2 linked regions of the Homo sapiens genome follow. The protein of the gene in region 1 interacts with the protein of each later gene in a biochemical or structural test. Each region holds a gene or a part of one and is shown on either strand. Other genes may lie near its edges. The genes, in order: IPO5 and EIF4E.

Evidence for each region.
Region 2: the proteins of IPO5 (region 1) and EIF4E form a complex in vitro, tested with the Homo sapiens proteins (one study listed by IntAct).

Annotation. Positions count from the first base shown.
Region 1 is NC_000013.11:98,012,381-98,016,205, reverse strand, and holds part of IPO5 (importin-5), read right to left. Parts: intron 2,165-3,825; coding exon 1,992-2,164; intron 677-1,991; coding exon 565-676; intron 481-564; coding exon 425-480; intron 1-424. UniProt on the Homo sapiens protein: Functions in nuclear protein import as nuclear transport receptor. Serves as receptor for nuclear localization signals (NLS) in cargo substrates.
Region 2 is NC_000004.12:98,883,912-98,887,736, reverse strand, and holds part of EIF4E (eukaryotic translation initiation factor 4E), read left to right. Parts: intron 1-544; coding exon 545-658; intron 659-1,190; coding exon of another isoform or gene 1,191-1,283; intron 1,284-2,675; coding exon 2,676-2,815; intron 2,816-3,825. UniProt on the Homo sapiens protein: Acts in the cytoplasm to initiate and regulate protein synthesis and is required in the nucleus for export of a subset of mRNAs from the nucleus to the cytoplasm which promotes processes such as RNA capping, processing and splicing.

The sequences.
Region 1 (3,825 bases):
GCTTGACAGTCCTAGGTGGTTTGATGAGAGAACTAAGTAACATGGTGAAAAAGGCCCCAGACCGTCAACAGTGTGACTCTAGGCAATCATTTAACACTGGAATTTTAGGTTACTCATCTTTAATATAGTGAAAGCACCACAAAATACAAATGGTTGTTGTGAGCAGTATGTAAATGAACTAGGTAAACCTCAAGGTGTTTTGTTGAGTGAGGTATTACAACAAAATGCACATAGCACCGAAAGACATATCAGTTTAATTTCAAATTACTTATTCATAAATTAAGAGAGGAAATATATCTGACTCCTCTGCTAAAGACTGATAATTACATCAGAATGACAAGTCACATAAATCAGAAATTGAGGCATTTACAAGTCTTTCAGATGCAAGTGGTCACGTAAGTAAGTTCCAAAGGGAATAACTTACCTCATCTTGTAGTGACTCTTCGACCTGTTCATCATAGTCTTCATCTTGTCTTTTAACTAAAACACACCCAAATAAATGTTTTAAATGATTGCCAAGATGGTCAAGGATTATATTCAGAAATAAAAGCATGGAAAACTTACCTTGTCGTAATTCTTGATTTTTAAAATGTTCTTCAAGCTTTGCTTTCAATATACCTCCCAGTTCTTCAAAGTGTTCATTATTAAGGCATCCATCTCCCATTACTTCAATGCACTAATGAGGTTGAGGAAAGAAAGCAATCCATAAGATTTGGGGTGTTTGGAGTCCAAAGTTAAACTCCACTAAGAATCATATGGAAAAATGAACACAGTTCAGTATCCTGGAAGATTATTTACATATGCTTAGCTTGTATTTGTTAGAATGACAGCATTTTAGAGATTGGAGTTAGAAAAAAATATTTTCTTTTGAACACTACTGAGCATACCTAGGTGCCAGGCATCATGCTTGGTACTGAGGATTCAAAGATGGAAAACACACACACACACACACACACACACACAACCAGCTCCTAAGGAACACAATTGCTATATCCATACTCCGTACACACAACATACAAGAACACTGAAGGAAGGGCATTAGAGGTAGAAGAAATAAAATATAGGCAAAGGTATGGAAGCATGCTGTCTTTGGAAAATCAGAAGCAATTCTGAATTACAGGAGTGTAAATAAGGACATATAAAGATGCTGAGAAACTGTAAATCTTCAATCAAGATTGGAGCAAACTAGAGTTGTGCAAAATGGGAGTGACACTGTATGAGAAAGGAAGTGACTCAATGAAGAGGAAGGCAGTGCTTGAGGAAAGGAGAATGAACTGAGAGGAAAAGAAAGGAGACATCTGGAGTAGCCCAAGTGAGGCTATTTCAATGGCATGAAAAAGAGATGGGGCAATGAAAAAAAAAAAAAAGAGAAGAATTGAGGAAAGTGTAAAGAACAGAAACTGGAGATGATACCCAAGCTTCTATAGTTGGATTATTAAGTGCAAGACTAAAATACTAGAGTATTCAGAATTTCTTCTCTTTTTCCAAAGAATGCATGCTTCCATGCTGCTGCCCATATCATTCCCTCTACCTATACTGCCCTTCCAAGGCAAATTTACCCTCTTTAAAACAAACATAATAATACCAAAATATTAAAACAAAAAATTTAACATTTTTATTTTTTAACAAATCATACACTATAGCATATAAAAATTTATTTAGCTGCCTTACATCTGCAATCCCAGCACTCTGGGAGGCCGAGGTGGATCACCTGAGGCCAGGAGTTTGAGACCTGAGGAACATCTACTAAAAATACAAAAAGTAGCCAGGTGTGGTGGTGCATGCCTATAATCCCAACTACTTGGAAGGATGAGGCATGAGAATTGCTTGAACCCAGGAGGTGGAGGTTGCAGTGAGCTGCGATTGCGCCACTGCACTCCAGCCTGGGTGACAGAGCAATACCCTGTCTCAAATTTTTTTTTTTTACTTTTAGCAAGACTAATAAATGAACATACAACCTTATACATATTTTTTAAGAGAAAAATATTCACCTTTGCAAAAGAATGCATTATTTCTGAGAGGACGTCTGAATCTGGTTCTGTACCAATGGCCTTAATTAGAGCATCACACATAAAATGCCACATCTGTGTGAGATACTCAGGACCACGGACTCTTGCACACTCCAGGAGAAGAGGCATGGATTCCGCTGCTGCCACTCGAACACGTTTCATTGTTAAGGAACCTCAAAAGACTGTTTATTATTTTGCTTAAATGTTAAAGGGTTCAATGCACTAAAAGGAGTGCTAGGCAACTTCTGTTTATCTAAGATACCCAAGAGCTTGTGTTAAATATAAAGCATGTATAAAAATAGAAAAGACATACCTCCTGTCTCCTCTGTCACCTGTAATAGTGGCAGGAATGAGTCCAGCAGCAGTGAAGGGCTGCCTATTGCTCAAATGTAAACCAAAATACAAAAATGACTATGGAAGGACCCATGACCATTAGCATGCCTTAAGCTGTACCTACCTCAAAACCTTAGGTACTATCTGTTTCTAATAAAAGCAACTGAAGTATTTCCCTGAAAAAGACCACCGAGGACCTCTTCCTATGCTGGCCTTTTCAGTTTTTAATAAAGATTAAATTGCCTTTCCCTATCTAATCTCATTTATAAAATAAGGTCTTGATAACTTCCTCTTAAAAGCAATCCCGCTTTGTCCTCTGGCATCCTGGGAAGTTAAGTCTTTGTTGGGTAAAAGCTGTCTTCTGTAAAGGATACCACTATAGGATACCGTAAAAGGAATGATGACAAACGGGCTTTGGAGTCAGACAGATCTGGGTTTGTGTCTGTCTACCACTCTCGTGTGTAAAGGCATAAAAATGTACTGGAAAATATTAATTACGGCTATCATTATGTTGAGAAAGATATTGGAACGCAGATGTGGGTGGATCACCTGAGGTCAGGAGTTCGAGACCTGCCTGGCCAACGTGGTGAAAGCCCGTCTCTACTTAAAAACAAAAACAAACAAACAAAAAATACAAAAAATTAGCTGGGCATGGTAGCGCATGTCTGTGATCCCAGCTGCTCAGGAGGCTGAGGCAGAAGAATCGCTTGAACTTGGGAGGTGGAGGTTGCAGTGAGCTAAGATCGTGCCATGCACTCTAGCCTGGGCAACAGAGTGAGACCCTGTGTCAAAAAAGAATGCAGATGTGCCAAGTGATGTTTCCCCGCAAAGGTGCTATCCACATTTGAAATGTAGGGTTCTCACTGCTACAGAAAGCTGACCATCTATCAGTGGTTCTCTAATCTATTAAGACAGGTCTTGCCAGGCACAGTGCTCAGGTGTGTAATCCCATAACTTTGTGGGGCCAAGGCAGGAGGACTGCTTGAGCCCAGGAGTTTGAGACCAGCCTGGGCAACATAGGCAGACCTTATCTCTTAAAAAAAAAAAAAAAAAAAAAAAAAATCAAATCTAGCTGGGCTTGGTGTTGTGCACCTGGGTCCCAGCTACTTGGGAAGTTGTGGTTTCAGTGCGTCCTGATCACGCCACTGCACTCCAGCCTAGGTGACAGAGTGAGACACCATCTCTTAAAATAAAAGTCTTATTTTCTTAACGTTTACCAAAAGATATTTGGGGAAAGTAGCAACTATATATAATTGTAATCATTTGCTAATTATCCTTAAATCCTTAAGTGGGCCACAGAAAGCTGACAAACATAGGATAGGTCACGTTTTCTTTTTCATGTTTTGGCACAAGTGGAAACAAAGGCACATGCAGAGAACCGAGTTTATCACCTAAGAGTACACTTAGTGCAAATACAAACAATCATGGTGAAGTCTACTTCAGTCAACACTGTCTAATACTCCAAGAAACTACAAGTTTACTA
Region 2 (3,825 bases), on another chromosome or scaffold:
TTATTCTATTTGTTTATAAAAATTGAGAGAGAGTTACTCTGTGGGCACATACTGAGATTGATTTTGATGAGAGCTTTGATTATCCAGTCTACTCCTTCCTTTATATATTTGAGCAGACTGAGTTTATCAAGCATTCTTAACCTTAGGAGCATGGGTCCTTGGAATACTTATTATTGGGCTTTGTCAGTTGGTAGAGGGACGGGACATTCATTAACTGAAATTGCATAGTTTTTGCATGTATTTTCTAGCTGTAGAAATGTACAGAGCTTCTAAAATATGTTTGCTTCTCAGAAAGTTTAAGAACCTTCAAATTAAGTGAAACCCAAGATTTGATAGCTAATAAGTGACAAAGCCAGGACTCTAATTCTGCAATGTCATGCCTCTGGCTTTAAGTCTTATGTGCTGTTTAAAAACTACATCAATGGCAGTTTTATGGGCAATAAAGTAAGAAGTTGACAGTGTTGTTGCTTAACTGTTTCTAATGATTATCTCTCAAAGTCAAGGTAACAATGTTGTGTAATACTGTTGTCTTCTAACCCTGTAGGATGGTATTGAGCCTATGTGGGAAGATGAGAAAAACAAACGGGGAGGACGATGGCTAATTACATTGAACAAACAGCAGAGACGAAGTGACCTCGATCGCTTTTGGCTAGAGACAGTAAGGTTTTAAAAGTATAAAGCAGTTTTAGAGGTAGTTTTGGAATACTGATACTTAAGATATGTTATGTTTTACATTTGTTACTTAATTTAAGAGAAGGATGCCCAACACTAGAAAATCAGGGTCAGTAATTATTTTTGTTCTGTCATATGACTCCTGTTTATAGTACAGTGAAACATCCTACCACATTATAAGTCAGATATTTTAAGTGATTGGCAGTTGACTCTCACCACAGTAAGCTCACTGTGGTCATTTCATTAACCTCAAAATTATAGAACCTTACATTTTGTATGATTGAAGTTTTTGCAACCCTCTTACAGCATTGCTATATGTATACTAAACTTTTAAATACTTATATTTTTAGAGCGAGGGTCTTGCTCTGTTGCCCAGGCTGGAGTGCGGATATTTATTTATATGGCTCATTTCAGCCTCACCCTCTGGGTTCAAGTGATCCTCCCACTTCAGCCTCTTAAGTAGCTGGGACTACAGGTGCATGCCACCATGCCCAGCTAATTTTCTAATTTTTTTCCAGAGATGGGATCTTGCTATGTTGCCCAGGTTGGTCTCAAACTTCTGGCCTCAAGTGATCCTCCCACTTCAGCCTCCCAAAGTGCTGGAATTACAGGTGTGAGTCACTGTGCCTGTCCCACTAAACTTTTTAGATTAGTGAAGCAAATAATAAAATTGTTGTGTACTACCATTTGACCTACATGTTGTGATATTAACTGGAACTTCTGGCTTTACAAGACAAATTAAATATGAGATAATAAGCATTTTCTGTAGACAGAGGTTCCAAACCCCAAGCTTATAGGAGCGGGGTTTGTAGTCTCTTTTGTATCCCTAGCACTTGAAACCGTGCCTGGTTTATAGTTAGCACTTGTTAAGTTAATCACTTTAAATGTTTGAATAAGTGACTATTTTGCTTTTTTTTAGAGACAGGGTCTTGTTCTGTCGCCCAGGCTAGAGTGCAGTGGGGCCATCATAGCTCACTGTAGCCTCCTGGGTTCAAGCAATCATCCTGCCTTAGCCTCTCAAGTAGCTGGGACTACAGGTGCATGCCAGCACAGCCAGCTAATGAATGAATGACTTTTTAAGAAGAAAATTCTGTTTTTGAGGGGGAAGATCATGAGCAAATACCATTTTTGAATTCCACATTAAAAAGTCAGGACATTTCCATTTTGCAGTTAAAAAAAATCTTCTGGAGATGGATGGTAGTAGGGATGGTTGTACAACAATGTTGAATGTACTTAACACCACTGAACTGTACACTTAAAGGTGGTTAAAATGGTAAATTTTATGTTATTTGTATTTTACCACAATTAAGAAATCTGTTAGGGCTGGGCTCACACCTGTGATCTCAACACTTCAGGAGGCTGAGGCAGGCATTTCACTTAAACTCAGGAGTTCAAGACCAGTTTGGGCAACATGGCAAAACCCTGTCTCTACAAAAAATACAAAAATTAACTGGGTATGGTGACATGTCCCTGTATGTATGCCCACCTACTCAGGAGGCTGAGGTGGAAGGATCATTTGAGCCCAGGAGGTTGAGGCTGCAGTGAGCTGTGATGATCCCACTGCACTCCAGCCAGGGTGACAGAGCAAGACCCTGTCTCAAACAACAACAACAACAAAAAACCAGACCATTAACAAATATTCATAAAAAATAAGAACAAGAGGAGATTAACCATGAATAGCTATTTTTATTATTCTATTAATATTTGTTTGCTCATAAATATAAGCAGCAGCAGAGCAAATGAATATTAATAAAATCAGCTTTTATGTCTGCCATGACATTAACTGCCAAATTTGCTGAAAAAGGCTGATTTGATAGTAAATAAATGAATGAGTATTTAAAAGTCAGGACAGATCAATATATGCAAATAAAATTTACACATTTAAAAAATTAACTCTTGATTTAAAAACTGCCTTTAGTTTCTATGCAAATACAGAAGAGACATTTGCAGTGTAATGAGCTTGTTTATAATCTATTAAATGTAATTTGGGATTTTTTTTTAAGCTTCTGTGCCTTATTGGAGAATCTTTTGATGACTACAGTGATGATGTATGTGGCGCTGTTGTTAATGTTAGAGCTAAAGGTGATAAGATAGCAATATGGACTACTGAATGTGAAAACAGAGAAGCTGTTACACATATAGGGTAAGTTTTGCTCTTTGCCTACTTATTTTACAGTATTAAGATGAGTAAAACCAGAAGTTATTTTATTTGTAGCTTTAGAAATACTTCAGTTTGTAGATCCTGTTTTCCTTGTATTGTTTTCGTGAACACTTTTATAATTTTGAACGGCTCAATTGGTGCGCAACGTCTTGTTTTTTTGGGTTTTTTCACAGCTATTTATTTATTTATTTATTTAGAGATAGAGTCTCACTCTGTTGTCCAGGCTATATATAGTACAGTGGCATGATCTAGGCTCACTGCAACCTCCGCCTCCCGGGTTCAGGAGATTGTTATGTCTCAGCCTCCCGAGTAGCTGGGAATACAGGCGCATGCCACCATGCTTGGGTAATTTTTATATTTTTAGTAGAGACCAGGTTTTGCCACGTTGGCCAGGCTGGTCTTTTAACTTTTGGTCTCAAGTGATCCGTCCACCTCAGCCTCCCAAAGTGCTATCATTACAGGCATGAGCCACTGCGCCTGGCCTTTTTCATATGTTTTTTATTTCTGTAAAATTGCTTTTTCTTAGCAGTGAAGTATATAACCACTAGAGCACTCTCCTTTGGCATGTAGCATTTTTTATTCATTCACAAATGAGAATGTATTATTTCCTACTTTGAAAGTGCTGTTTGGAAAAAAGTACTACTTTGAAAAGAGCTAATGTATGCTCATAATAATAATTCAGTGATTATTGGCAAATAGTATATGTGCATTTAAAGCATGTGTGTTTACTACGTATAATTTTCATTAAAATTTATATAACATATCTTGGTTTTTGTTCCATGTTTAAAACCCACATATGTAGGGTTTTATTAAACCTTTTTTTGTAAATTTTATTCTTTGCAAAAGTGGCTTTTTTTTTTTTTTTGAGACAGGGTCTCACTGTGTTATTCAGGCAAGAGTGCAGTGGTGCAGTCATGGCTCACTTCAGCCTCAACCTCCTGGGCTCAGGTGATACTCCTACCTCAGCCACCCAATTAGCTGCAACTACAGGT